Regions from separate parts of the Homo sapiens genome. Here all the other regions are reported to be linked to region 1. Evidence: microRNA targets listed by miRTarBase, many of them from high-throughput screens and not tested one by one. Region 1 holds a microRNA gene; each other region holds the end of a gene's coding sequence.
Evidence for each region. Region 1 holds the annotated microRNA hsa-miR-544b (ACCUGAGGUUGUGCAUUUCUAA, at 3,302-3,323, opposite strand). A microRNA usually pairs through its seed, bases 2 to 8, with sites in the 3' UTR of a target mRNA and lowers its output. Matches are read on the target gene's strand: a 7mer-m8 pairs with bases 2 to 8, a 7mer-A1 pairs with bases 2 to 7 and ends in A, and an 8mer does both.

Region 1 (8,127 bases):
GACGGAGTTTTACCACGTTGGTCAGGCTGGTCTTGAACTCCTGACCTCAAGTGATCCGCCTACCTCGGCCTCCAAAAGTGCTGGGATTACAGGCGTGAGCCATGGTGCCTGGACAAATTTTCGGGTTTTAAAGCAAGTCACCTGATAATCTATTGCCATGAACCCACAAAAATATCTCTCTGAGGTGTTTACACTGCTTTATGAGAGTAATTTTATCCATGGATTACTTTTCATGAAGTTTAAATACAAACATACTGGGAAAGTATGTGCTGTTACAACATTTTGCTGATGAGGGAAGGGCTGGTAAAAAAAAAAAATGTTGGAGTTTCATAGATACAGTACCAAAAAAAGCACTTTTCATTTCCTAATCAATACAAAGCATTTCACCCCAAGTCTAAAAAAAGGAAGGTGACTTATAGTAACAATTATAAATTCTACAAGCAGTAACAACTTAAAGAACTCAAGATGACTGGTAAAACATTAGTGCACAGAAGCGGAAAAATTCTAAGAGTATGATGTTACAGATTAATTAACTTCATGCTTTATGTTACTTTTATTTTACCATAATCCTTTGTTTCTTTCCTTCTAATAAGCATTGGAATTTGATTGGTTGAACAGATAACTGTAGCCAATGGCAAAGCTGTATAAGGCACTCCACACACGGTGTCAAAACTGATGCCTGCATTTTGGGCAGTTTGGAATAAAATATCTGCAACCTGTAAGAAAATGAACACATAAACAATGTTTTATTGTAACTATTTTATTTTATTTTATATTTTTTATTTTTTGAGATGGAGTCTCGCCCTGTTGCCCAGGCTGGAATGCAGTGGTGCGATCTCGGCTCACTGCAACCTCTGCCTCCCAGGTTCAAGTGATTCTCCTGCCCCAGCCTCCCAAGGAGCTGAGATTACAGGCGCGCACCACTACACCCAGCTAATTTTTTTGTATTTTTAGTAGAGATGGGGTTTCACTATGTTGGTCAGGCTGGCCTCAAACTCTTGGCCTTGTGATCCACCTGCCTCGGCCTCCCAAAGTGCTGGGATTACAGGCGTGAGCCACTGCGCCCAGCCTATTGTAACTATTTTAAATAGTGTATAAACATGTAACAACGTAACAGAAAAGACAGTAATAAACTAGTGGGGGTAAGTCTCAAACTTGATTGGAGAAAAAAAAACAAATGCCTTTTTATTACCCTCTCCATAAACCCAGTACACAAATATAAATCTAAAAACACAAGAATGAATCTATTCAACCAGACTCAGAATCTGTTCTGAAGGCAACCTGAGATGTGCTGGGGAAGCTCATGATGTTGACCCCAAAGACTAAGGACGATCCCGACTTCCTGGTTTCCTCAGTAACCCATTAGGCTGAGTATCTAAACCTATCATCTTTTAGTTATATATCCTGAAAGAAGCCTTCAATTAGGAAGTTTCATAAATACAGACTATTGTGTGAATTGCTATTTTATAATCTCCTTTTCCACATAAATCATCATATTTTAATGTTAGGATACATATTCCCACCCAAGACCACCTCATTTTTTTTTTAAAAAAGCAAACAGTCACTGAGTTGCTTTGTGAACTAGATCATAGGTTTACACCAGTACTTCTAAAGAGTAAAAAAACAAACAAAAAAAAACTATGACTATTTTAAGTTGCAGAGAATGTAATTTCTAGTACTAAAAATATTAACATATTATCTTAGAACTGTTTTATCACTCTTTTTAAGGAATAAACTTGGAATACAAATGCTAGTGACTGGATATCCACCATCTCCATTTAAAAAAACAAAACGTGAAATTGCTGGACTATGAAAAGTTTAAAATTTTTTACATCTTTTTCCAACTCATATTTTCACTCCACTGTGTCCACAGAATTTTATTCTAAAGTAATATATGATTATACTTGAAAAGCTTTTACTGATCCCTCTGTCATACTTGTCTATATGTATGTAAACTGAAATTTAAAATGGTAATTAAAAAAAAATTTCCCATGACCATAAGTCTCTAGATGTCAAGAATTCTTCTGTAGCTCTCTCAGGTCCTTACTTCCAAGATGACAAAGAAAAGAAAGGAACAATGATCGTGCCAAAAAGGGCTGTGGCCAGTAGTGGCACATACTATGTCCGATGCATGCCCAAGGAAAAGACCATTAAGAAGCTCGTCGTGCAAAACATAGTAGAGGCCGCAGCAGTCAGGGACATTACTGCAGTGAGCAACTTTGCCTCCTATGTTCTTCCCAAGCTGTATGCGAAGCTACATTAAGGTGTGAGTTGTGCCATTCACAGCAAGGCAGTCAGTAATCCATCTTGTGAATCCCACAAGGACCAAATACCCCAATCTGATTTAAACCTGTGGGTGCTGCCTCATGACCCTCACCAAAGCCCATGTAAGGAGCTGAATCCTTAAGGACTGAAGAGAAACTATTCTCTTGAGGAAAAGAAAATGGAAATTGTACTTTTTAAAGAAGAGAATTCTTCTGTATATCATTAAATTATAACAAGCATATGATTAATTCAAACATGATTTGCAAATTTTGACAGAGAGATAAAAACAGATTTGGAAAATGCATTTTTAGTGAGTTAATGCTACCTTTCCTCTCCAATTACTTTATGTACACTAATGTGTATATAGTACTATAGTCAAATATCACTTATTATCACTTATTAAGGGAAGTTAGAGTTTAGCATAAATTATATTGCTTTTTGGGGTGTAAATACTGAGAAATTCTATTCGCATAAGATGTGAAAAGAAGTTTTGTTATACCCAAGTCTCTCCATGTTTTGAACTCCTCCCCAGTTAATCACCAAAATACACACACACACACACACACACACACACACCATGATCTAGTTATCAAAAAACTTTTTCTGTCATTTATCAGCTGGCTTATTAAAATAAATCAATTTTTCCCTAGAAAATCCTTAGTAATTCTCCACATTGCTAAGATACACCATAGCAAGATTCTGGATGGTGAGAAGTTAATGGTCCAAAGTACCGCAACCTTAATAGTCCAACCTATCTTCAATACTTTTTACAATAACCACACAAAGTGGTCCCTAGTGAACATAAACCCTTAAGTGGGCTGAGGAAACTTATATGTCTTCTTGATAGAACTTTCTGCAATGATGGAAATGTTCTCTATCTTTGCAGTCCAATATGATAGCCACTGGCCATATATGACTATTTAAACTTAAAAATTCATAATGCTCAATAGTAACACGTGGCTAGTAGCAAACTGTATTGGAAAGCATATTTACGGCCCTCTACTCAGTGTGGTCTGCAGTTTCAGCTGGCACTTTGTTAGAAATGCACAACCTCAGGTCTAGTCTCAGAGCTACAGAAATGGATTCTGCATTTTAACAAAATTCCCAGGTAATTCATATATACTCAAAGTTGAGAAGCACTGTATTAGAAACCTCTAATTTGTACAAAAATTTTCCTTATATTGACTAAAAACCTGCTTTCCCAATATGTCCACCTTCTAGTCTTAATTATTGCTTCTGGCCGCACAGTGCAAAATTCAACTCCCCTTTCCAAACAGCCCTTCCAAGTGTGGACCTAACAGGAAGAGGCTGAGGCAAAATTAATATGAGTAGTTGCCCTGACTATAGGCTTCGATTACAGTAGTTACAAGTGGATTTTTAAAGCAAAAGAAGGGGCAGTTCCTATATTCACCAAGAATTTGCATTGAAATAACAGGAGGTAGCCCGGGGGTGGCACCAGGCATTTGTAGTCCCAGCTACTTGGGAAGCCGCCAAGGCAAGAGGATCTTTTGAGGCCAGGAGTTTGAGACGAGCCTGGGCAGTATGGTGAGACCTCCTCTCTACAAAAAAAAAAAATTTTTAATTTGGTGGGCATGATGGCACATGCCTGTAGTTCCAGCTACTCAGAGGTTGAGGTAAGAGGATCTCTTTTTTTTTTTTTTTTCTGAGACAGTCTCCCTCTGTTGCCCAGGCTGGAGTGCAGTGGCTCAATTTCGGCTAACTGCAACCTCCTGATTCTTCTGCCTCAGCCTCCTGAGTAGCTGGGATTACAGGTGTGCACCACCATGCCCAGCTAATTTTTGCATTTTCAGTAGAGACAGGGTTTCACCATGTTGGCCAGGCTGGTCTCGAACTCCAGACCTTAAGTGATCCACCCGCCTCAGCCTCCCAAAGAAAGCCTCCCAAAGTTGGGACTACAGGCATGAGCCCCTGTGCTCACCCGAGGCAAGAAGATCTCTTAAGCCCAGGAGTTCCAGGCTGCAGTGAGCTATGATCACAGAGCTGCACTCCAGCCTGGGTGACGTAAGAGAGATCCCATCTAAAAAATAAATAAATAAAATAATAACACAAGCGATTGATTAGCTATACATTGTTCTTTGTATCACACATTCCAGGTACATTAAGATAATGGGAGAGGCAGCTAGTCAGGGACAAAATTCCTTTAAATAATTGTCCCGGGGCTGCATAGGGGAGTATGGTTGAAGTCTCTCTGGGCTCTGATAAATTTTGTATACATCACAGAGTTCTGGTTGTTCTATTTTCCTTTTCTCACCAGTAATTTCCCAGCTACTGAATTCTCTGCCTACCCACGTTTTCCCGGTCTATTTGTTTGTTTTTTGAGGGCAGGGTCTCACTTGTCGCCCAGGCTGGAGTGCAGTGGCGCAATGACAGCTCATTGCAGCCTTGACCTCCCAGGCTCAGGTGATCCTCCCACCTCAGCGTCCCAGGCGTGCGCCACCACACCCAGCTAATTTTTTGTAGAGACGGGGTCTCGTCATGTTGCCCAGGCTGGTCTCGAACTCCTGGGGCTCAGGTGATCTGCCCACTTAGGCATCCCAAAGTGCTGGTATTACTCTCATGAGGCACCACGCCCGGCCGCAAGTCTAATTTTCTTAAAGAGTTAAATATACAGAATTCATTCAAGTGTGCTTCAGTGCCAGAAAGCGTTCCAAACTGGGTTTCCCGACTTTTGCAAAACACGTGTCTAAGCGTGTGGGTGAAAGAACAGACGACTCTCGAGGAGCCCAACCCCTGGCCTCTGTGCTTCTCATGCTTACTCCCCAAACCAAGAGTAGGGTCGGTCTGCCTGCTTGGCTCTTTTGCTCTCACTCACGGCCCAACTCCTGTCACCCTCTTCCATTTCCTTGTCCTCCTTCCCGCCACCAAGCCCTGTCCTTTCCCTTCCTAGGCCAGCACCTGACTCAGAAGACGCGGTCGAGACACGATGCCCCGCAGATCGATGTAGATGGGGGAGGAAAGCCCGCTCTTCAGCACGAAGTCCCCAAACTTGAAAGCCTGCACGTCGTACAGACCCGTCACCAATGGCCCCAAAGCTGCACGAGCGACCGCCATTGTCGCGCGCTGCCTGTTTGCTTCAAATTCCCAGGCGCCCCGGGCCTCCGGCGCCCCGATGACGTCACCCGCGAAGTCCCGCCTCTTCCGCCTGCCTCGTCTGCAGCTTTCCCGGCTTGCTGCACCCGTGGGTTTCCCCGGGCTCAAGGGTCAGGTGGATGGTAGCGAACCTAGCGCCAGTTTGTGCTTCTCCTGGTTTCTTCTGGATGGGGTCGCTGGGGTTCAAAGCCCAGAACAGCTAGATTGACTGTAGGATCATGAAGTCCCACCTTTCATGAGAGTTTGCATAAATCCTGTCCATTTTTTAATAGCCAATGCCTTCTCGACTAGTTCTCTTAATTATCTCTACTCCTTGGCCTAACATGTTATATTTGCTAGTTATTAGCCAAGATTTACCCCCCATGTTTCTCCAAATAGAATATAAGTTATCAAAGACAGGGACCTTTACTCAATTCTTTTATTAACTTCATAGCATCTAGTACGTGACAGTTCCATAGCAGTTTGCACATAGGAATATATAGCACTTAGATCATTACAGTATTCATTACCTCTTTTGTCTGTACTCTGCTTCCTGGAGGAGTACTTTTTTATTTCCTTTGGCGTACCTCAAATGCTTAGGTAATAGGTGTAGAAAAGGTAAGGGAGGGAAGGAGGAGAGTTAGAAGACGGTTAATTGATTGGTATCAGGGTTATCCAGGAGGATAATATTGCTAGACAATCTGAAAATCCAAACATATTTGGTCTTTACAAATAAATCCCTTAAAGAAATAATCAATAAATAATCTGTACAAATAAATCCCTTCTCCATTGTGTATATAAGGCAATACTTTATTCTAGCTTAAGGAAAATAACCCTTAAATTCACATAAAGAATGAAACCTTGTCATTTGCAGCAAGGTGGATGAACCTGAAGGACATTATGTTAGTGAAACAAGCCAGGAACAGGAAGATAAATACCAAATGTTCTCGCTCATATGCAGAAGCTAAAAAAGTTGATCTCATGGAGCTAGAGAATAAAATAGTAATCACTAGAGGCTGGGAAGGGTAGGGGGTGGTTAAAGGACACAAATTACAGCTAGATAGGAGGAATAAGTCCTAGTGTTCCATTGCACTGTAGGGTGACTGTAGTCAATAATAATTTACTATATATTTTAAAATAGCTAGAAGAGGGGCGTTTGAATGTTCCCAACACAAAGAAAGGATAAATATTTAAGGTGAGGAATATATGAATTACTCTGATTTGATCACTGTACATTGTGTGTATTGAAATAGCACTATGTACCCAATAAATGTGTACGATATCATGTGTCAACTATAACAAATACTTTTTTAAAAAAGAGGAACAGATAAGGCATAGCTGTATAGTGCACTACAAAGAACATGAAGTTTCAAACCAAAACATTTGGATTTTAGTCCCATTCTACTTACTGGCTGAGTGATCTTTGGCAATGCATTTTGAGCTATATGAGTCTCAATTTTCTCAAAAATAGAATGAAGAAGCCGGGCGCGGTGGCTCACGCCTGTAATCCCAGCACTTTGGGAGGCTGAGGCGGGCGGATCACGAGGTCAGGAGATCAAGACCATCTTGGCTAACATGGTGAAACCCCGTCTCTACTAAAAATACAAAAAAATTAGCTGGGCATGGTGGTAGGCGCCTGTAGTCCCAGCTACTCGGGAGGCTGAGGCAGGAGAATGGTGTGAACCCGGGAGGCAAAGCTTGCAGTGAGCCGAGATCGCATCACTGCACTCCAGGCTGGGCGAAAGAGCCAGACTGCGCTCAAAAAAAAAAAAAAAGAATGAAGATAATAATATTAACTTTCTCCAAAAATCACTATGAAGATTCAATAAGATAGTTCACTCAAAAACACTTGATAAAAAGTTGGTAGAGCTGAGTGTGGTGGCTCATGCCTGTAATCCCAGTACTTTGGGAGGCCGAGGGAAGTGGATCACCTGAGGTTGAGAGTTCGAGACCAGCCCAGTCAACATGATGAAACCCCGTCTCTACCAAAAAATACAAAAATTAGCCGGGCATAGTAGCACATGCCTATAGTCCCAGCTACTTGGGAGGCTGAGGCAGGAGAATTGCTTGAACCCCGAGGGGGTGGAGGTTGCAGTGAGCCAAGATCATGCCACTACACTCCAGCCTGGGCAACAGAGACTCTGTCTCAACAACAACAAACAAACAAACAAACAACAACAACAACAAAAAAAAAAGCAGAGGAACATAGATTGTACCAATTCATTTTGTGTTCTCCATTTCATTTACTTAGGCTGGGTAAAGGATCTTGGCTTTAACCAATATTTAGTCTTACTATTTTAGGTATTTACCCTAAAGAGTTTCCATGAATGTAAAATTTCATGCAGTAGTTCAATCTGAGCCTTTTCATGGACCTAGCTCTATATTGCTTACTGAATCCCTTCTGTATTCTACTCTGATATCTATTTTAGACTGAGCTTGTGGGGTTCTGATTATCATTTGTATTAGGGCTTTTGCTAATATTCCATAACTATATTGGTGATTCCTCTGAACCACTCCCCTTCAAAAAAATATAGGCTGAGGTACTGTTATTTAATTATTTATTATTGTTTGACCTACACTATACACACACAGAGACACTGAAACACACACATACACATTTATTTTAAGTTATGTTCTAGGGCCAGGTCAGTGGCTCATGCCTGCAATCCCAGCACTTTGGGAGGCAGAGATGGGAAGCCCAGGAGTTTGAGACCAGCCTGGGTAACATGATGAGACTCTGTCTCTTCAAAAAATAAAAAAAATTAGCCAGAC
Region 2 (8,127 bases), not on the chromosome of region 1:
ATGGTAATGAATCCCCAAATCCACTAAAGACAAATTCACGTGGTGAATCCCCATCTCCACTAAAAATAGAAAAATTAGCCAGGTGTGGTGGTGCGCACTTGTAATCCTAGCTACTCAGGAGGCTGAGGCAGGAGAATCGCTTGAATCCAAGAGGCGGAGGTTGCAGTGAGCTGAGATCGCACAACTGCACTCCAGCCTGGGCAAGAGAGAGAGACTCTGCCTCAAAAAAAAAAATAAAAAAATAAATAATAAATAAAACCACCTGTTCAGCTTTTAAGAGCTAACATTTTATGTCTTAAGCCACCCATCTTTTCACATTAACATCTATGAAATCAGTTTGCATTTTTTTTTTTTGAGGCGGAGTCTCACTCTGTCACCTAGGCTGGAGTGCAGTGGCACAATCTCAGCTCACTGCAGCCTCTGCCTCCCGGGTTCAAGCGATTCTCCTGCCTCAGCCTTCAGAGTAGCTGAACTACAGGCGCGTGCCACCACACCCGGCTAATTTTTGTATTTTTAGTAGAGACGGGGTTTCACCATGTTGGCTAGGCTGGCCTAGAACCCCTGACCTCAAGTGACCCGCTCGCCTCGGCCTCCCAAAGTGCTGGGATTACAGGCGTGAGCCACCACGCCCAGCCCAGTTTGCATATTATAATCAATGGTGAGTGATTTAATAGGTAGCATTTTCCTTCACTATTTGGTAAACGATGCATCTTACAATCAACGGGGTCTTAGATTTGATGAAATATACTAGTTCATTTAAACTAGATAATATAAAGGCCACTTTCTGTGGGAGTTTTACTCTTCTTTCTGAACGGTGGGCCACCTCTACAGGACAGATACGCTGAAGAAGGTAGACAAGTCCAGGTCTGGTCAGGGACATATGAGCCATTCTGAATCTTCAGAATGGAAGTGGTTTAATACAGAATCAGAAGCTTATATGGCTCCTGGAAGGCAGGGGCTAAGGTGAGGGAGGAAGTTTCTAGAAACCTAGGACTGCAAGAGTCACAGGGAAGCTCCCCTGCCCCCAGTGGTCTCAGCTGCCTGCACGACTGAAGTGGGTGAGTCTCAAGGTGATATCCAGAGGCTGCTGGCAAACCCCACATCTGCCTCCTGCTGATGCTCGAAAGCCTGTCGTGTGCAGCCACCAGAAGGAAGCAGCTTCTCCTCACCTCCCTCCTCCCCAAATCAGGGCACAGGGTCTCTTGGGGCAGAATCTAAGAATCCAGGTCTACTGGCAAAGGAGTGTGGCAAGTGTCGCGTCCAGGCTTTATGCCTCTAAGGACAGGGAGGAACCAAGAAGGGCTGGGATGGTGGCAAGTACCAACAATGTTCAGCCCTTTGGAACACATCAGTGACTCCGTACATTAACTGCAGAGAAGCTTAATCTTTTTCGTCTTACATGAATATAAAAGGAAGTTGTAAGATATGTGTCCTGCTCCCAATGGACTGATTTCTGCCCCCGTGGAATATGTGCACCCACCTCGCCCCTGACATTAGTGGACTTGGGCCTCCAAGGCTAGCCAAAGCCAGGTGGAAGAGTGAGGCCAAAGGAGGAACAGGGCTTGGCAAGGCCAAAACCCTGCCCTGGCCGCCCCGTTGTCCCTGAGGAATTATTTCCACAAATGCATGTGCTTAAGTGCTTCAGTTCTATGGCAGGAGAACAGGACACACCACTACTGATACATAAGGACACGTCACTTATGGGCACTTGGCACTGACTCATATGCTCTGTCATAAGTGCCCTGATGTTCTCCTTTTCATGAACGCTGGTTTGTCTGTTATGTTCTAGGCAGCTCGAGGGGAGGAGCTAGGTCCCTTCTTTCTTAAAGATCTCCCCTCAATGCTGATAGTATCCCTAAAGGCAGAAAGGTGATCCCATAACACTAGAGTTGCCTCTGTTAGAGCAGGGGGAGTGGCCAAGCTCAATTTGAGCACGTGCTAACTATGGAGTGTCGTTCTTAAGGTTTAGTGGCATCAACCTGCTGACAAAATAGGGCAAACAGAAGAGAGGAAACAGAAGAGAGGAAAGACTGTCCGCCACGTATTCCAACGGTGGGCTCTCGTTTGCACATCCTCTCATACCTAAAGCTCTCCCACATTGCCTGGATCAGCCTCAGGAGACTTTGTGAGCAAGCCCCAGCATCCAGCTATAGCCCCAGAAATTTTAACCTACTTCATGTACTCAGCCAACTGCGAGGACAATCCCTTCTGCAGCTTGAAAAAGCAGTGCTTTTCCTCCCAATTACACTGCCACTACTCACAGTATTTACTTTTTACTTTTGAATATTACAGAAGGGCATGGTGTTTCTATGCCTACAGAGGGAGGCCTTGGTTTAAAAGTTCAGGAAATCCCACTCTAGAACATTTACTGTAAGACATTTCAACAATAAGAAATCACACAGACGAAAGACCAAAGCAAATGCTAGGTGTGCCTGGAAGGTCTTAGAGCTCAAGATGCAGAATTCTGCAGGCTACAAAGCATCAAAGGATGGAATGAGAGGCAAAGCTAGAGGAAGATCATTTCAAGTCTGGAAAATTCACAGGAAGGGTAATATGGCATGATAGTCTATAGACTAAAAGTCTACAAGCCAGATAGGAGAAAAAAGGGGGCCCCGAATCACTCAAGTCTCAGATCACTCAAATCGACACCCCCATTCCAGCCGCTGAGCATCACCCCCGGAGCCTCGGTCAGGGCCCCATTGTCTCCAGTGAATCACAGGACACGCTGCTGGGGAGCAAGAGTAGTGAGGGTTTCTGGGTTCCTCGGGTGGAGCCGCAACTCCTGGGGTGGGGGTAGGGGTTGGATAAGTGAGGCTATGCAACTGTAACCCCAGTCCTCCAAGGGCATCCCACCGGGGCAGCTGGGCCATCTGAAGGCAGAGGGCCAAGAGCAGGTGCATCCAGGAGGCGGCCTCTGGCCCCCAGTGGTAAAAGAGCAGCTGGAGTTGCCAGCCAGGCGTACAGGCTCAGATGGGATGAGATATCTCGGGGCACGGGCATTTTCTAGCACTCTCGCATCACTGATGATATCATAAATAACAAAGGCTCTGAGTACAGATACAGCTCATCGACTGAACTTCTTACAGCCCCCCTGGGGTCTCATTGAAGACCCCTGTAAGAAATCAGCCCTTGGCTCTTAGGCATCTGTTTAGCAGTAGAATCTGGGCAGGTTTTAAAACTCAAGTATTTGGACATGGAAAGCCATAAGCTTACTAGAGTGGCTCTGTTTCAGTTCCAACAAATAGACACTTTAATGTAATGCAGTTAATGATAAATAAAATCACATCTGAGGCTTTGAATGAATCGTTGCGATTAACTTTATTAATATTTTAAAATATGAAAACTGTAAAACATAGTATTTATGTAAACACCTGAGGACTGTTCAAGTGGGTACAGCATCTTCATACAAACAACTTGAAAGAAGACCAAGTTTAAGTAAGAATCTTATGACATGTAAGGAATAACATAAATGAAGCTATTCTTTAAATAGTTGCATTCATGTCTAAAGTACATTTGGTTTTCTAAAAAGAAAATGTACATTCTTGCCCCTGGTGAATATTTTATTGGCATTTACAACAAATGGCTAATACTTTTATAACTGATTCTCATAGCTTATAAACATTACATCAAAGTTACACAAAGTAATAACAATAAACATATAGCACCATTTCCTCTTCAAAGTTCTAACTTATAAAATAAAGCCCCAAACATGGCTGGGCATGGTGGCTCATGCCTGTAATCCCAGCATTTTGCAAGGCCGAGGTGGGCGGATCACCTGAGGTCAGGAGTTTGAGACCAGCCTGACCAACATGGAGAAACCCCATCTCTACAAAATTAGCTGGGCGTGGTGGTGCATTCCTGTAATCGCTGAGGCAGGAGAATTGCTTGAACCAGGGAGGCGAGGTTGCAGTGAGCCGAGATCGAGCTATTGCACTCCAGCCTGGGCAACAAGAGTGAAACTCCATCTCAAAAAAATAAAAATAAAATAAAGCCCCAAACAATAAGTCAGAACTAATATATCTTTCAAAGTGTAGCAGAATAAATGGCTCAGAACTAAGCAAATTAATTAGAAACATTGCATAGGACAGAGAACTTCCCTGTATGGAAACCAATCTACAGATTGTTTCATATCCCCTGAAGAGTAAGCTGAGAGGTACTGGTGATAGCAAACGATGGACATATATTTTTTACGAAATCAAAACATCTAACTATATACATAGTTCATCGTCACCTCTGTGGCAGTGCAAAGTGCCAGATTAAATTCAAGAAAAAAAAGATTTACTTGTGTGTAAACCTACAGGTATAAAACAATATATAAATATGGTAAAGTACCATATGAAGAATAAACACATACAATATATATCTTCAAAAATTTTGGACACAGGTATCTTCATATAGAGATGTAAGAAAAGAATGCCTAGTTAAATGTCCAAGCGTAGTGAAAATATGGAAAGTTTTAAAATAATAGGAATTTCACTGAAAAAATTTAATCTGACTCCATCCAAACAACCCTCGTAGTATAAATATCTCCTGCATAAAATGACAATTCTATCCTATAATTTAAAAAATTTATCAAAAACTGGTAAGAACACTTCATGAAAGCTTATAAGCTTGCTTTTTTCCTTTAAATATGATCAAATACAACATACAGAGAAATAATAAAAGGAAAATAATTTATATGGCTATTCCCTTTCTAGATATACTGATAGAACATGAACAGAACACCACAGAGTATCACACAAAATATCTGAGAAAAGATGATATCTACAGGTGCACCTTTAAATTCTCTAGTGAGGAAAAATTCTCATGGATTTAATTATAGAAGTTGTCAATCCCTGATATTTTCCCCTTTGGGATTTAGCTGTTTTGGTTCTAGATATAAAGGTTAACCAAAATCAAAGGTTTTTCTCTGTTAACTACATTAAGTATATTTGTAAACTGTACAATGAAAATTTAAAAAGACATAAAGAACTGCCAATTTGAATATGCCAATACTAACCTGTTAAATGCTTTTTAAAGAAGTAGACTGGGGGAGTGGCGGCTGTGTCTCCCAAAGCTGGTTGGTGACTCCAGGAAAAAAACAAAGTTGACTGAACTGTTACTACAGTTCTGCAATTCTGATAAAATATTTTTATGGGAACTGTCTACAAAACAAAAACTGCTAAGAGAAATACTTTTAAATTAAAATGTTAACAGTACACCTGAGAATTATGTCCAATCTAAACTTACACATTTTTTTAACTGTATTTTCCTTCTTTAAGCTTTTCAATGTAGTAACACAGCTTTAATGCTGGCCCCAGCTTCAGCCCCATATACTTCATCATCACATCACTCTTGAGTAGGAACAGAGCCTTCCCATCAATTTCCTACAGAGAGAAGGAAATCATAATCATTAATAATGCTTTCATATCAAATTATTTATACATAAGAACATGTAAAATACAGCAGCTGTATACTCCGGATATATATTCTCTGAATATGCTTTATTTCCTGAAAACTATTAAAAATATAATTTATACAGTGAAGCATCATTTGATAATTTATGAATTTAGTTCAAACTTTAAGAAAATTTAATCTTGTATCTTCAAAAAATGTCCCAAGTATCAAACAATCTGACTTTAAATACTGTGTGTTAAATAAAATACTAAATATATCTATGACAAAAGATCAAAAATTATGAATGGTAGAAATGAATTTCAGATGATCAATAACTTTCTGAGAAGGGCCAGGAATATGTCAATATCAATGCAAACTGTAAATGTGCTATACAGTGTTGTCATTATGTTGAAGGCTAATCAGTTAGTTGTCTGAAGCTGGTTAGATGCTAAAACTACTGATTTTCTTGCGATAGTGAAAAGGGTACCTCAGATAATAGATCACTCATTTGATTTGTTAGAAAACACTGAAAATATTACTTAATAGTCACAAGGCATCCTCCTAAAATTCTTTATTACCTTAATCAATTTATGTCATGGAAGCATATTATTTGGTATTTGTGAGTTCCTGTTTAAAAGGATGTACTTAATCTTATAAAGTTGCTGGATTCACTGGAGGAAGGCCACCCTGTAATAGCTTGTGGTCAACCCCTCCTACTCATGGTTCTGGCACTGAGCTGGGAGCAGGTCGGGGAGGATCCTTGTATCTGTCATCACAAAGGGAAGGTACACCTGAGAGTTGCAATGCTGAATCATCGTATCTTGAGAAGTTGAAGCAGTTTGTATTTTAGGCACCTGGATACTCACTTAAAGAACAGACCATTAATCTACCATTTAAGGAACTAATCTTGGGAAAAATAACCTCTCTCACATATGGAAAAATCAGTTGATAGGGTTCCCCCACCATCCACACAGCATCCAAATGAAGGGCCTGCACAGAGGTCATTCAAAGGCATTACGGCAGGAAAACCGGATCAAAAGATACATTACATGTTGCCTGAAGAGGTCGGCGAGGGGGCCTGATATCTGAGGATCTGTATGTTTCATAAACTGTATCACTTCATCCACAGACCAGGTTGAAGGGTCCTTAGAGAAGCCTTGTTTCAGGACACTGGGATCAGGTACAGCTATATAACTTGGAGCTTCAATGGGGGGGAAAAAAGACAAATCATACTTGACCTGATCATTATCCTGAAAGAAGAGATGTTAGGTAGGGAATAATGGTCTCATTCCTGGAACCTTTTGTTAAGTTCCCCAACAAGGTCTCAAGACTCCAACTGTGAAAGCTTATACAAAAATGATGTGAGGATGGCTACATAAGAGCATCCCATCTGACCTCCCCCAAACAACAAAAGCAGGTTCAGACGTTACCTTAAAGCTTCAAAGATCACAAAACAGACTAAGCAATCCAAGCCTCTTTGGCCACAGACAAATACAGCAAAAGATCTGTTACTCGGGTAAAATTAGGTTAATCTAATCTAACCTATGACTTCTCTCTTACTTTAAGTCTTTCAAGGAATTTCAATCTCTCTCTATCTGTCTAGACTAGGTATATTTTACTAGCTAAATCCGATGGAAATTCCCCAAATTTACAGTTAGTTTTTGTTTTGTTTTGTTGTTGTTGTTGTTGTTTTGGTTTTTTTGAGACAGGGTCTCGCTCTGTTACCCAGGCTGGAGTGCAGTGGCACAATCATGGCTCACTGCAGCGCTGACCTCCCAGGCTCAAGTGATCCTCCCACCTTGCCTCCCAAGTAGCTGGGACTACTGACACATGCCACCACTTGCAGCTAATCTTTATATTTTTTGTAGAGACAGGATTTATCCATGTTGCCCAGGCTGGTCTCAAACTCCTGGACTCAAGCAATCTGCCCACCTCAGGCCCCCAAAGTGCTGGAATTACAGGCATGAGCCACCATACCTGGCTAAATTTAGTTTTCTAATTGCTTAAATGTGTTCACTTTAATCAAAGAATTTCAATAATCCCATTATTTTTGATAAACAAATTAGTCCTTTTACCAAATCTCTCTGATGTATCCAATAAGAATATTTTTAGCATCACTTTACTCTTTAGATTCCTGTCTCTCATGGCTTAAATGCTTATCTGAATTTTGAAGAAGACAAGATTATTTTCTGCTAAGCTAGGTCAGAAATAACTTTAACATTTAATTTAACTCCTTTATCATGTTTAATTGCATAGTAATAGATATTTTGGTTGAAGGTTTATACATTAAAAAAATACATAACTGAGACATGAAACAATTTAAGTGCTCATACCTCAAATGGTCTTAGCTGTGCTCTTTACTAAGTTGTGATAAAATCTGTGTCCTGACAAGTATTCATTTACTCAACCAGAGCCCTTAACTCCCTAAAGTTAGTGTGGATAACTGAAGTGAATTTTGTACTTAGCTAGGAAGATTTGTTTTGCTAACCAAGGACTGTCAACACAAATTTGATGTTTTTTTGTGTGTGAATTAGCCAAAGGAGTACCCTTTCTTTCCTATCCTCTGGACTATGGCCATTTTAGAAGCATTTTAAGTATATTTACCTAGGGGAAGGATAAAGAAAAACAGAAAATAAAAGAACTTATAGTGGTTAATTTTTTGTGTGTAGCTCTGAATTTTATTTCTTTCCAACATCACAACGATGATGTGAAATAAAAACTCTATACCAAAATATATTCTCCCCTCCACTC
Region 3 (5,000 bases), not on the chromosome of region 1:
GAAAGCCTCCCAAGTAGTGGAGACTGTAGTGGGTCACGCCACCACGACCAGTTAATTTTTTAAATTTTTTTGTAGAGATGGGGTCTTGTTATGGTCTGGAAATCCAGCACTCAAGTGATCCTCCTGCCTTGGCCTCCCAAAGTGCTGGGATAAGTGTGAACCACTGTACTCAGCCAGTAACTTATTTTTAAATTGTAACTCCAGGACACTAGGGTATGCTTGGACTTTCTATGACAGAAACTTAAGAAAATTCAAGACTGCAAACGTGGTAACTTTAATCAGTTTTCAATGAACAGTCATTCACTATGAAGATGATAAGCTATACTTATAGATTGTCTTATTTAATCTCAATACACAAAATAGCAATGTTACAGAACTTAAAAATTAAAGTTTCTTTATAATTAGTGGTACTTATCAAATATTTTATGTAAGTTTTTTTACAGTTCTTTGTAACTCACCATTATTAAGACATACACTTAGAATTGTTTCTTCTGTCCTAAAGGTTCAAAATAATGTTCCCAACCTTCCTTTCTGGCCTCAACTGTTGTTACACTACTTTCCTTCTGTACCTCAAATTACTTGCCTTTCTCTGACTTTGTATGCAGTAGTGACTCTACCCCTAAAGTCCTACCCTATTATTCTATTGCTTTAAAGCCCCAGGAAATGTCACTTTATCCATGAAAGCCCTCCAGGTCCCCTCAGGAATGATTCTTTATCTTTGCACCCATATCTCTATATCATTTACCCAAAGCTTCTTTTATACTGTTTATTAATAATATATAGTACTAATTGGGGTTTTTTGAGGACTAGAATAGAATTTTGTTTATTCTTATTTTGCTTTGCTTTAGTCCTTCCTAACGCCTAGAACAGTGACTTGAACAAAGTAGAGGTTCCATATTTTCATTGCGTGAATAAAGGAATGTTGGTATACAACTGTTGATAATCTCTAATTCCCAGCCAACTGTAGCCAATGGCACTTATTACTGAGATAATTAACTGCAATGCAGCTTATGGCCAAGAAAGAGTATTTTCACTGTGAATATAGCTCAAAAAAATCAAATCTATGATTTAAAATTTTAAGACCATGATCCAATAAAACAACTATGTATATGTGAAGTTGATACAAAGAACTAACCATCTTGAATCTAAAGGAAAATACATAAAACTGTATCGTGGATATCAATGGTAGATAGAAATGATATTCTGTCAGTTTTCTTACAATAACTGAACAATCACATGAATATACCTTTTCTGGAAGATGTTCATTAAATGTTAAATCATCAAGGGTTAAAACTAAACTTCATTTGATGCTCGCCAAGAAGACATTAAACAAATCATGACAGATTAACAATTTCAACTTCTATAGATTTTTTAAGATTCTTTTTGATTACACAAGGTCAGCTGCCTCATAAAATTCTGTTAGATGTCTTTGGGCTTCCTACATTGCTTCCATCTAAAGGTTGCTTCAATTTCTCAGCCTAGACTTTTACAAAGCCTGTAGATTGTTTGTCTTTTGTGTTTTCTAAGTGCCTGATAATTAAAATTTCAATTTAATGCTAATGAGAGTCAGAAGTAGAATTATCTATACAAATCAAAATTAAGGTGAAAATCAACCATGAACCGTAATTCCCAAGTCTCTGTCTACACTCCTATGCCTTTACTTAGCCTGGGTTCTAGAAGAAAATCCTCACCTACTTACTACACATTTCTACTTTAAGTACCTCAAGTTTACCATGCCCAGATCAAACTCCCTGAAACTAGCCCTCCTTCTCCATCCAATTTTCCCACCTCTGTTAATTAGTTCATCATTCTCTCAGTCACTGAGGGCATATATGATGGTAGCTTTTGACCATCGCTTCTCATTCACCTTTTCATTTTTTGCCACATAATTGTAAAGATTCATTCTTCAAAAGGTCTCTTATTTCTACAGTGAACCCATGTCGTTCCCATGTAGCCAACATCGTTTCCTTTGGAAAACTACCCTTTTCTTATTTGAAATGAGGTTGTGAAGCACAATAACTCACCCCATCCCCACTGAGAAACCAGCATGTTACCTGTGGCCTGTCAGTTCATGGTGTCTCATCTCCTTGGTAAATGCCATTGGTCAAAGGGGTAGGTTTATACTGCAGTGGAAGCAATCAGAATTTCCTTCTTGGAATTCATAATTAGATATTATAATAAATGCTCCCTCTACTAGAATTGCTAATCTAGAAATAAGTGAATTTGCAACTACTAGCAGCATCTTCCCAGCTATCTGCAGGGAGTCTATTTACAGTAGAAAGAGATCAAACCAGAGAATGCATGAGAGCCAATATGGAAAGGCAGAGAGTTTTGACATTGTTTAGTCCCTGGAGCCAGCCACGCTCAAAGTCTACGCCATCCCTGGAATTGCCAGTTAGATGAGTCCAATTTCAAAATTCAGACTCTACAACTTTCTACCTAGGTGAACTTGGACAAGCTACTTAACCTTTCTGTGCCTCACTTACCTCATCTATAAAATGGAAGGTACTATTAGTACCTACCTCACAGGGTTATATGAGAATTGGCATTGTAAATGCTCAATAAATGTTAGCAATAACCGTCAAGTGCCAGTGAATTCTAATGTTTGATCTTTGAATTGGGGTCCTGTCACAGCAGAAAGAGTACAGATGAGAGGGCTTTGATTTTAAAAACATGCTTGGAGTTCATTCTTCCCCCGCCTTTGCGTTATGGTCACCCCCATGAGATTCCTGAGCAACATTTCAGCTGGCTTGTCTGACCACTTCTTCACTCTCTACAATCCACCTGAATCACTAGTGTGAGGGCCATCTGCACTAAACATCACTGTCATCATGGAATGTCCTGGCTCCAGTTTCTGTTCATATTCCTCTTCCTGATTTCCCAGGTCCCACTTTCATTGTCCAATGAACGACCTCTCTCCCCAGCATTCTGGTCGGCCTCATATCCTGCCTTTCACGAGATCATGCCTTGCCAATTTGTATCCTTCTGCCTTTCCTTCAGTCATCACCCTCATCATCCCATCTTTTTTTCCCTCGAGATAATCAGCTGCAATCATTCCTCCATGCAAGTTCTGCCCCCTCCAGGATATCTCCCCTGGCCATTGTGGCTTTCACTGCTTTTATTCTCCTTGGCATTCCAAGTCATGTTAAATTCTGTAACATGCAATCAGAGATTATCCCATATTGTTTCAGATGGGTGTAACCCAACTAGAATGTGAAGTTTTTAGGTTAGATTTTTTGGCATGTCCCCAAACTCAGCAATAAGCACACAATCAGCCTCAAAATAAATATTTTGTATAGGGTCTAACCATAACACTAACCATTCCTCTTTTTTTTTTTTTTTTTTTTTTGTGAGATCAAGTCTCGCTCTGTCGCCCAGGCTGGAGTGCCGTGGGGCGACCTCAGCTCACTGCAACCTCCACCTCCTGGGTTCAGGTGATCCTTGTGCCTCAGCCTCCAGAGTAGTGGGTATTACAGATGTGTGCCATCACGCCCAGCTAATTTTTGTATTTTTAGTAGAGATGGGGTTTCACCATGTTGGCCAGGCTGTCTCGAACCCCCAACCTCAGGTGATCTGCCCGCCTCAGCCTCCCAAAGTGCTGGAATTACAGGTGTGAGCCACCGTGCCCAGCCCTTCCTATTACTTAAATTTGGTAGTTTTGAGAGAATTTGTTTCAGAGTAACACAACTTTTACTGCAGTTACCTAATCTTGATGCAAAAACTCAATTCTGAGAAGCACACAAATACTTAAATGACAAAATAAGGCAAATTTAAGACAGTTACATGTCTTTATTACATAAACATCATAATATTTCTCATAGGAGTTGGTCTTCAGTTTGCTTGTTGCTTTCGCAGAATGTCAAATATCTATAGAAAATGTCTAATTATTTATGAACAAACATTCCCATCCCTGCCCCGCAAAAAATCTCATTGCCTGCAATTCCTAACCAGATTCCTGAGAAAAATAATAGGATTTATTTTATAGCATCATACATAGATTTTCTTTCAAGATATAAAAAAGGACAGACTTCTAAAACATGAATCTCCTTTCGTTTACAAAGTTCTATAAAAATACATTAAGTATGTTCAAATGTTTGTTCTTTCACTTTATATTCCAGTTTACCAGAAACAAAAAATGGCAGTACATAAAGATATGTAAACCACATTAATCTTGCAGTAATATAATGTCAACATCATCATGAACACCTTGCAGAAGCAGCTCTCCTGGATATGTTACAATCTTCCTTCGTTTTGCAGCTTTAAGAGTTCCTACCAATGCTTCAAAGAGGTTGGCACATTTATCATCACGGAAGAGGACCCCAAATTTCACGCTTAACTTTCCATCAGCATCTAGTTTGAGAAAATACATTGTTAGCAAATGCAAAGTCTGTTTCATACCCTCAAGTATGGAAGACTTACAAAATCTTTAATAAATTTATAACTATGGGCTATCCAAGGTTGCAATTTAACACTTAACAGTCATAAATTCAACATATTCTCTTCCCTGATCCAAAAAGTAATGGAATAAATACATGCTATATGCCTCTTGGCCTTAGGATTATCCAGACAAAGACTGAGAACCAACATTTACAAAAGTTGAATGTGCTACAGTGCTAATACTGCAGATGAATTTCTCTCCCTCTATTTTTATTTGTTAATTGTTACGTGAGTTTTTGAATCAATAAACACTACAAATGAAAGAGAAAACCAGGATCAAGAGCAGTGTTTCTCTAAGTGTGTTCTGAACACTCGGAATCCCCAGGGTGGGAGTGGGGGGCTCCTTAAAAATGTATAATCATCAGCCATTCATCAGGACCACTGAATCTGAATTCCCAGTAGTAGACTCAGAAATCTGTATTTCATATGAGCCCTAGATTATCTTATTTGGAGGCCAGTTTTTAACATATACATTGAAAGTTAAGATAGACCAAAAGTAGATCTGTTGTTAAACATCAATAACCTGAAAACCTGGAGGCAAGGGTAATCTGGGAGACACCTCC
Region 4 (8,127 bases), not on the chromosome of region 1:
TCCTTTGGGGGGCCAAGGTGGGCGGATCATGTGAGCCCAGGAGTTTTTCTTTTTTTTTTTTTTTTTTGAGATGGAGTCTCGCTCTGTCACCCAGGCTGGAGTGCAGTGGCGTGATCTCAGCTCACTGCAAGCTCTGCCTCCCGGGTTCACACCATTCTCCTGCCTCAGCCTCCCAAGTAGCTGGGACTACAGGCGCCTGCCACCATACCCGGCTAATTTTTTGTATTTTTAGTAGAGACGGGGTTTCACCGTGTTAGCCAGGATGGTCTTGATTTCATGATCCATCTGCCTCGGCCTCCCAAAGTGCTGGGATTACAGGCGTGAGCCACCGCACCCAGCCGTGCCCAGGAGTTTGAAACCAGCCTGGGCAACATGGCAAAACCCCATCTCTACAAAAAATACAAAAAATTAGCTGGGCATGGTGGCACATGCCTGTAGTTCTAGCTGCTCAGGAGGCTGAAGTGGGAGGATCGCCTGAGCCTGGGAGGTTGAGGCTGTAGGGAGCTGTGATTGTGCCACTGCACTCCAGCCTAGGTGATGGAGTAAGACCCTGTCTCAAGAAAAAAATAAATAAATAAATCAAAACAGTTTCTCCCAGGAAGGCATACGAATGGCCAATAAGCACATGAAAAGATACTCAACATCATCAGCTGTCAGAAAAAATGCAAATCAAAACCATAATGAGATACTACTTCAGGGGAGCAGTGGTTCACGTTTGTAATCCCAGCACTTTGGGAGGCCAAGGCAGGCCAATTGCTTGAGGCCAAGAGTTCAAGACCAGCCTGGGTAACATGGTGAGACCCTGTCGCTACAAAAAAATAAAAAATTAGCAGCCAGGCACGGTGGCTCATGCCTGTAATCCCAGCACCCTGGGAGGCCGAGGCAGGTGGAGCACAAGGTCAGGAGTTTGAGACCAGCCTGGCCAACATAGTGAAACCCTGTCACTACTAAAAATACAAAAGTTAGCCGCACGTGGTGGCATGTGCCTGTAATCTCAACTACTTAGGAGGCTGAGGTGGGAGAATCGACTGAACCCAGAAGGCAGAAGTTGCAGTGAGCCGAGACCACACCACTGCACTCCAGCCTGGGTGACAGAATGAGACTCTGTTTCAAAAAACAAAATAAAATAAAATAAATAAAAATCAGCAGGGTGTGGTAGCATGCACCTGTAATCCCAGCTGCTTGGGAGGCTGAGGTGGGAGGATCACCCCAGGAGGTCAAGGCTGCAGTGAGCTGTGATCATACCACTGCGCTCCAGCCTGGATGACAGAGCCAGACCCTGTCTCAAAAAAAAAAGAGCTATCAGGCTGGACGTGGTGGCTCACGCCTGTAATCCCAGCACTTTGGGAGGCCAAGGTGGGTGGACCACCAGGTCAGGAGTTCAAGACCAGCCTGGCCAAGATGGTGAAACCCCATCTCTACTAAAAATACAAAAATTAGCTGGGCATGGTGGCGGGCGCCTGTAATCCCAGCTGAGACAGGAGAATCACTGGAACCTGGGAGGTGGAGGTTGCAGTGAACCAAGATTACGCCATTGCACTCCAGCCTGGGCAACAGAGCAAGACTCCGTCCCAAAAAAACAAAAAGTTCTGATTTCATTTTAACCAGTACAAGATGCAGGAAGGGAAGCTGCCTGGTGACGTTCTTGCTATTCAGCCATGGCCTCGAGGCAGCATTATTCATAACCATGAGTAGCGTGGCCTTTCTGAACAGCTTCTGAAAAGCACGTTTGTTACTGCAGCTTTGCAGTTTACCTCCTTCTACATTCAGGGCTCAAACCCCGTTTAACACACGCCCCCTACTGGGCCACTGAGAACTGCTCGTCTCTGCAGATCCCCTTCCACCCGGTGTGCAGGCTCCCTGTGCACAACTCCCCTCCTCCCGTCCCTAGGGCACCGCCTGAGTTCACATTGTGGCCTGCACTGCCAGATCTCCCTCTAGCCTCTCACCAGCTCCGTCATCCTTAGAGAGGCACATCTCTAAGAACACTGATGCCATCACTCAAAAACATTTGGCTGGAAGCCGGGCACGGTAGCTCATGCCTGTAATCCCAGCACTTTGGGAGATGGAGGCTGGCGGATCACTTGAGGTCTGGAGTTCAAGACCAGCCTGGCCAACATAGTGAAACCCCATCTCTACTAAAAATACAAAACTAGGCCAGGCACGGTGGCTGATGCCTGTAATCCCGGCACTTTGGGAGGCTGAGGCAGGCGGATCACAAGGTCAGGAGATCAAGACTATCCTGGCTAACACGTCAGGATGTAGACATGTTTAGTAGAGAAACCCCGTCTCTACTAAAAATACAAAAAATTAGCCGGGCGTGGTGGCGGGCGCCTGTAGTCCCAGCTACTCGGGAGGCTGAGGCAGGAGAATGGCATGAACCTGGGAGGCGGAGCTTGCAGTGAGCTGAGCTCACGCCACTGCACTCCAGCCTGGGTGTCAGAGTGAGACTCCGTCTCAAAACAAAACAAAACAAAACTAGCCGGGCATGGTGGCGCATGCCTGTAATCCCAGCTACTTCTTGGGAGGTTGAGGCATGAGAATGACTTGAACCCAGGAGGCAAAGGTTGCTGTGAGCCGAGATTGTGCCACTAGCCTGGGCAACAGAGTGAGACTCTGTCTAAAAAAAAAAAAAAAAAAAAAAAAAAAGGAAAGAAAGGGGGGAGGGGAGGGGGGAGGGGAGGGGTGGGAAGGGGAGGGGAGATTAGGTGAGTTAAACTGGAATTGTGGGGGAATGTTGGCCAAGTGGCAGGCAGGGTGGGCCTGGGCCTGAGGGAACGCCATGGGCCCCTAGACTTGTTCCTGCTGACAGAGCGCCAGCGGCCGGGCAGGAGCATAAGCAAGGTGGGTTTGCATCTGTCACTGGAGGAGCGCTCCGAATGCTTCTCAGGACAAAAGCAGGAGGCCGCCATTGTTCACAGGATGTGAGATCTAATATGGTTCAGGCTGGGGCAAATCAGTGAAGATCAAAATCCCTCGTCTTCCACAATGAGAGACTGGAATCAAAAGTGGATGTGCTCCCACCTGCTCACAAAGGGTCCTCACGTGCCCCAGGGCCCTCCACTGGGGCACAGTTCACATTAGGGGACACACAAACAGCCTGAGGGTGCCCAGTCGCTGAGCAGCCCCAGTCGCTGTGCCGTTACCAGCAGGCAGGGCCCTGCAGGAGACCTTGGCCTCCCCAGACCACAGGGGCTGCAGGGCTGCTGCGGGGAGAGGGCCAGGCGGCCGCAGCACAGCTGGGAATGGCTCCAGAGGGGAGGGTGGAGAGTGCGCTGGCCCCTGGGGGCACTCAGAGAGGAGCTGCGTGTGTTTGGCACTGGTGGACATGGTGTGTGGCAGTGTGAGCCAACAGGCCAATGGGTGGCAAGCATAGGAGGCTTTATGGAGCACCCTGAAGAACCACTGTGTGGAGGGGAAATGGCCCCCTGTGAGGAAAGTCCTAGCAGCTGGTGGAGCGCAACCAGATGCGGGTCCAGACTGATGGGGTCTCCATGGCAGCCCAGGTGGGAGGCGGAGGAGGAGAAGGGAGACAGTGAGAAGGTTGTCACCAGGCCCTCACTAATACCCGGGGAGCAGCCCGTGTGCAAAGGAGGTGAAGGATGGTGGTTTTCTTTTGTTTGAGATGGAGTCTTGCTCAGTTGTCCAGGCTGGAGTGCAATGGTGCGATCTCGGCTCACTGCAACCTCCGCCTCCTGGGTTCAAGTGATTCTTCCGCCTCAGCCTCCCAAGTAGGTGGGATTACAGGCATGAACCACCAAGCCCAGCTAATGTTTGTATTTTTAGTAGAGACGGGGTTTCACCTTGTTGGCCAGGCTGGTCTCAAACTCCTGACCTCAGGTGATCCACCCACCTCAGCCTCCCAAAGTGCTGGGACTACAGGCGTGAGCTACTGTGCCCAGTCGAGGATGGGTTTATATTGGGAAAACCAAGCCTATCAAACTTGGTGAAAACGACCACAGGATGCAACCCTCTGGCCTGGGACCCACCCCATCAAGTGTGTGGGGGCTGACAAGAAAACAGCAACGGCTCCCGGACAGCTCCCAGCAGGGCTCACTGCTTAGCCCCAGCCTAGCGCTGAATGGGGCTGTTCCTGGCCCGACAGCCTCCCGAGGCCTGCTGCCAACACCGCACCCTTCCCACCCGTGTCCTGGAAGTGCTCAGAGGAAACATCTGCCCAGAACATGACATCACTAAATCATTAATGAGACAGTCACTATATGACATAAATCCACTTAGCAGAGCCTCACTCTCACCTAGCAACTGGGTCACCAGCAAACTAACCACTTGGTGTGACTCTTCCATTAGGACTGCGTGGCCCCGGAGCCTCAGAGGCCAACGTTCCCAACCAGGGACTCCACCCTTCTCCCAGAGGGAGGCAAAAACAACACAATGTAACTGAGAACCGGGTTGTAAAAACCGGTGGAAGAGCTGGGAACAGTTAACGGGGTGTCTTTCACTTCTGCGTGTAGGAGCCGAGGTGGAGCCGCCAGCTGTGCAGAGGACACCCCCTCCTGGGAGGTAAGAGGGCTCGCCAGAGCCAGCAAGGCGTGCGGGCAGGGTCCCTGTGCGGTGGTACTGGTTGTTTCTGAGGCAAACAGAACTCCCCCCCTTTTTTTTTTTGAGACGGAGTTTCGCTCTTATTGCCCAGGCTTGAGTGTAATGGCGCCATCTCGGCTCTCCGCAACCTCCGCCTCCTGGGTTCAAGCGATTCTCCTGCCTCAGCCTCCAGGCTAATTTTTGTATTTTTAGTAGAGATGAGGTTTCACCATGTTGGCCAAGCTGGTCTCGAACTCCTGACCTCAGATGATCCACCCTCCTCGGCCTCCCAAAGTGCTGGGATTACAGGCATGAGCCACTGCGCCCGGCCACAGAACTCCCCATTTTATACAGTGGGAAACAAAGGTGCAACGACCCCAGGGACAGGCTTGGGAAACAGCTAATAAACAGCAGAGCCAGGCCACAAGGCCAAGTCTGACTCGGGGATCTCCATCCCACACCCGCCATCAACAGCAAACACATTAAAACTAAACCCCACGGCTGGGCGCAGTGGCTCACACCTGTATTCCCAGCACTCTGGAAGGCTGAGGCAGGCGGATCACCTAAGGCTGGGAGTTTGAGACCAGCCTAGCCAACATGGTGAAGCCCCATCTCTACTAAAAATACAAAAATTAGCCGGGCATGGTGGTGTACACCTGTAATCCCAGCTACTTGGGAAGCTGAGGCACGAGAATCACTTCAACCCGGGAGGCAGAGATTGCAGTGAGCTGAGGTTGCGCCACTGCACTCCAGCCTGCTGGGCGACAGAGCGAGACTCTGTCTCAAAAACAAAACAAAACAAAACAAAACTTAAACACCAGGGAACACACACAACACACATACCAATAAGATCACGAAGAAGGAATGGCTGAAAAGCCCACCAATTGTAGTTTATTTGGAGTCCAGCCAAGTACCATTTGTGTTGAAAAGACCTATTTTTCCCTAATTGGCAGTGAAACATCATTAAATATATGTACTCATATACACACACACAATATGGCATGTACACTTGACACACGTCCATGCATGGGCACTGAGAGAGCCTGGGCAAGTCAGTTAAGACCCTTATCTGAAGGACATACCCTTGGTGCCATTTGGGAGAACAAACTCCTGTTACTAGCATTGCAACAAAAACAGGTGGCAAGCTTTAAAGATAAACTCAAGACAGCGAGTGAAACTTCAGCAAATACGTGTTAATACGACCATGAGTAAAAGGCCCTTCCTGGCCGGGCGCAGTGGCTCACGCCTGTAATTTCAGCACTTTGGGAGGCGGAGGCGGGAGGATCACCTGAGGTCAGGAGTTCGAGACCAGCCTGGCCAACATGGTGAAACCCCGTCTCCACTAAAAATACAAAAATTAGTTGGGCGTGGTGGCAGGCGCCTGTAAGCCCACCTCTTTGGGAGGCTGAGCCATGAGAATCGCCTGAACCCAGGAGGTGGAGGTTGCAGTGAGCCTAGATTGTGCCATTGCACTCCAGCCTGGGTGTCAAGAGTGAAACTCCACCTCAAAAAAAAAAAAAAAAAAAAAGACCCTTCCTAAGAACAGCACTGTAACTCATGAGTTATTACTCAAATGCATCTGTCCATCTACCCACCAACTCAGGTCCTCTCCATACACTCCTGTAAGTCACCGGGCTACCGGGAGACTGCATGGGAACAACCACGCTCGCGCAGCCTGTCCCGCAGCCATCGCTCCTCCCACAGCTCCTGGCTGCCCACGGCGCTTCCCTGTAGCAAACCCAGCTGCTGACGTCATAAAAGGCACACAGCCGGACCTGTCTGTGCTCATCTAGTTCCATTTACAACAGACTCATCCACAAAACCGAAGTGGTAGAAACAGGTCTTTTTGAAGCCAGGCGTGGTGGCTCATGCCTGTAATCCCAACACTTTGGGAAGCTTAGGCAGGAGTATCGCTTGAGCCCAGGAGTTCGAGAACAGCCTGGCCAACATGGTGAAACTCTGTCTCTACAAAAAAAACTTTAAAAAGTAGCTGGGGGTGGTGGTGTGTGCCTGTGTGGTCCCAGTTACTCGGGAGGCTGAGGTGAGCGGATCACTTGAGCCCAGGAAGTTGAGCCACAATGGCACCACGGCACTCCAGCCTGGGTGACAGGGCGAGATCCTGTCTGAAAAGAAAAAAAAAAAGAAAAGAGAAGAAAAGAAAAGAAAACAGGTCTTCCTGGGAGCACCTAGACAAAGGCCTTTGTAAAGATAAATTACCGAGGAATATTTCTAGTTGCCTGTTTTCTTCAAAATCACAGTCAAGTAAGCTGGGCGTGGTGGCTCACCTCTGTAATCCCAGCATTTTGGGAGGCCGAGGTGGGCAGATCACCTGAGGTCAGGAGTTTGAGACCAGCCTGCCCAACATGGTCAAAACCCCATCTCTACTAAAAATACAAAAATTAGCCAGGTGTGGTGGCACACGCCTGTAATCCCAGCTACTTGGGAGCCTGAGGTGGGAGAAATACTACCCAGGAGGCAGAGGTTGCAGTGAGCCAAGATTGTGCCAGTGCACTCCAGCCTGGGCGACAGAGCAAAACTCTGTCTCGGGAAAAAAAAAAAAAATCGCAGTCAAGTAAAAAGAAACGCAACTAAAAGAGCCGTCAGTTAAATACATTCCTCTCTCGTGGCAGGACGAGTCTATAAGATTTGTTTTGTTTTTAATTTAGTGTAAAGTTTTTTTAATGTTTAAACCTTGTGACACATCAAATTACATGCTTGAAGCTGTTACTTTCTGTCAAAAAAGTGAGTTTTTAATATGAAAATTCTGCTTAGGTTAAAAATTAAAAAAAAAAGAGCGAGTTTTATACATCCGCATGAATTGTTTCCTTTAGCACTAGTCAAACAGACTCCATAACCTTCCAAAGAAGTGCCTTCGTTTATTTACAGGGCTTAGGAAAGGAAAAAAGCTCTACAAAAGGGAAATTTCAAAATAGGGCTTCAGCAGGGGCCCAGGTGGAGTGAGTAGTTTTGATAAGGTCCAGGTGGGACTCACTTCCAGGTGGTGAGGACCGCTCTCCCCGAGTCTCTCGATCGGCCTGCTCTGGGCCCCAGAGACTGACCCTGACGGCTTCTCAGCTCCCGGTCAGCCCCGTCACCCTGGGCCAATTCTTCATCATACCTGGAGACAGAAACAGCCAGGATCACGGCAGGCTCTCTTTCAAAGGCAACAGGCAGGGCCACCAGGCTGCTGTGTGGCAAATATGACATCACCCAGAGAAGCGGCCTGAGGGGGCCCCACCCTCGCGACTCCTGCTGGCTCCCGCCCACCTCCCACCTGGCTCCAGCCCACCTGCCTGCCAGGTGGCTCTCGCAGCCCAGCAAATGCTCCCCAAGGCCAGCCTGCCTATGTGTACAACCTTGTTGTTATTGTGGACAGTGGTCTCCCCTCGGAAGCTGACATTTTATACAGGTCACCAGGTCAAATATGGCAATGACTCCAAAGGCAACATGCATGAGGTGACACAGAACCAGCCCAGGGTAAGTGAGGTGAGACTGCCTGGCTGGAAACGCTTCACACAAGGCACCTGCAGGCTGGGGGGACTAACTCCATTCCAGATGGGAGTGGTACATGAGCACTGGTCAGTGGAG

Region 2: the mRNA of SCML2 is a reported target of hsa-miR-544b. Seed matches in the 3' UTR shown: 7mer-m8 at 3,775-3,781 and 7mer-m8 at 3,371-3,377.
Region 3: miRTarBase lists ABRACL as a target of hsa-miR-544b. Seed matches in the 3' UTR shown: 7mer-A1 at 3,954-3,960.
Region 4: miRTarBase lists TTLL1 as a target of hsa-miR-544b. The part of its 3' UTR that is shown has no 7-base or 8-base seed match.

Annotation. Positions count from the first base shown.
Region 1 is chr3:124,727,682-124,735,808 of GRCh38, reverse strand. It overlaps MIR544B (microRNA 544b), which reads right to left and starts at 3,370; the gene lies at 3,293-3,370. It overlaps UMPS (uridine monophosphate synthetase), which reads right to left and starts at 5,357. Exons shown (of 6, transcript NM_000373.4): 1 at 5,182-5,357; 2 at 563-716. The coding sequence starts at 5,337. It also overlaps the pseudogene RPS26P22. RefSeq lists enhancers at 5,278-5,687, 5,100-5,699.
Region 2 is chrX:18,236,014-18,244,140 of GRCh38, forward strand. SCML2 (Scm polycomb group protein like 2) reads right to left here. Exons shown (of 15, transcript NM_006089.3): 14 at 6,426-6,577; 15 at 3,300-5,366. The coding sequence ends at 5,238. Among named protein-coding and RNA genes, the nearest start is that of BEND2, 19 kb to the left of the region's middle.
Region 3 is chr6:139,042,069-139,047,068 of GRCh38, reverse strand. ABRACL (ABRA C-terminal like) reads right to left here. Exons shown (of 3, transcript NM_021243.3): 3 at 3,767-4,350. The coding sequence ends at 4,166. Among named protein-coding and RNA genes, the nearest start is that of ABRACL, 16 kb to the right of the region's middle.
Region 4 is chr22:43,032,249-43,040,375 of GRCh38, forward strand. TTLL1 (TTL family tubulin polyglutamylase complex subunit L1) reads right to left here. Exons shown (of 11, transcript NM_012263.5): 11 at 7,268-7,657. The coding sequence ends at 7,528. It overlaps TTLL1-AS1 (TTLL1 antisense RNA 1), which reads left to right and starts at 6,337. Exons shown (of 3, transcript NR_125362.1): 1 at 6,337-8,016. RefSeq lists an enhancer at 1,799-2,300.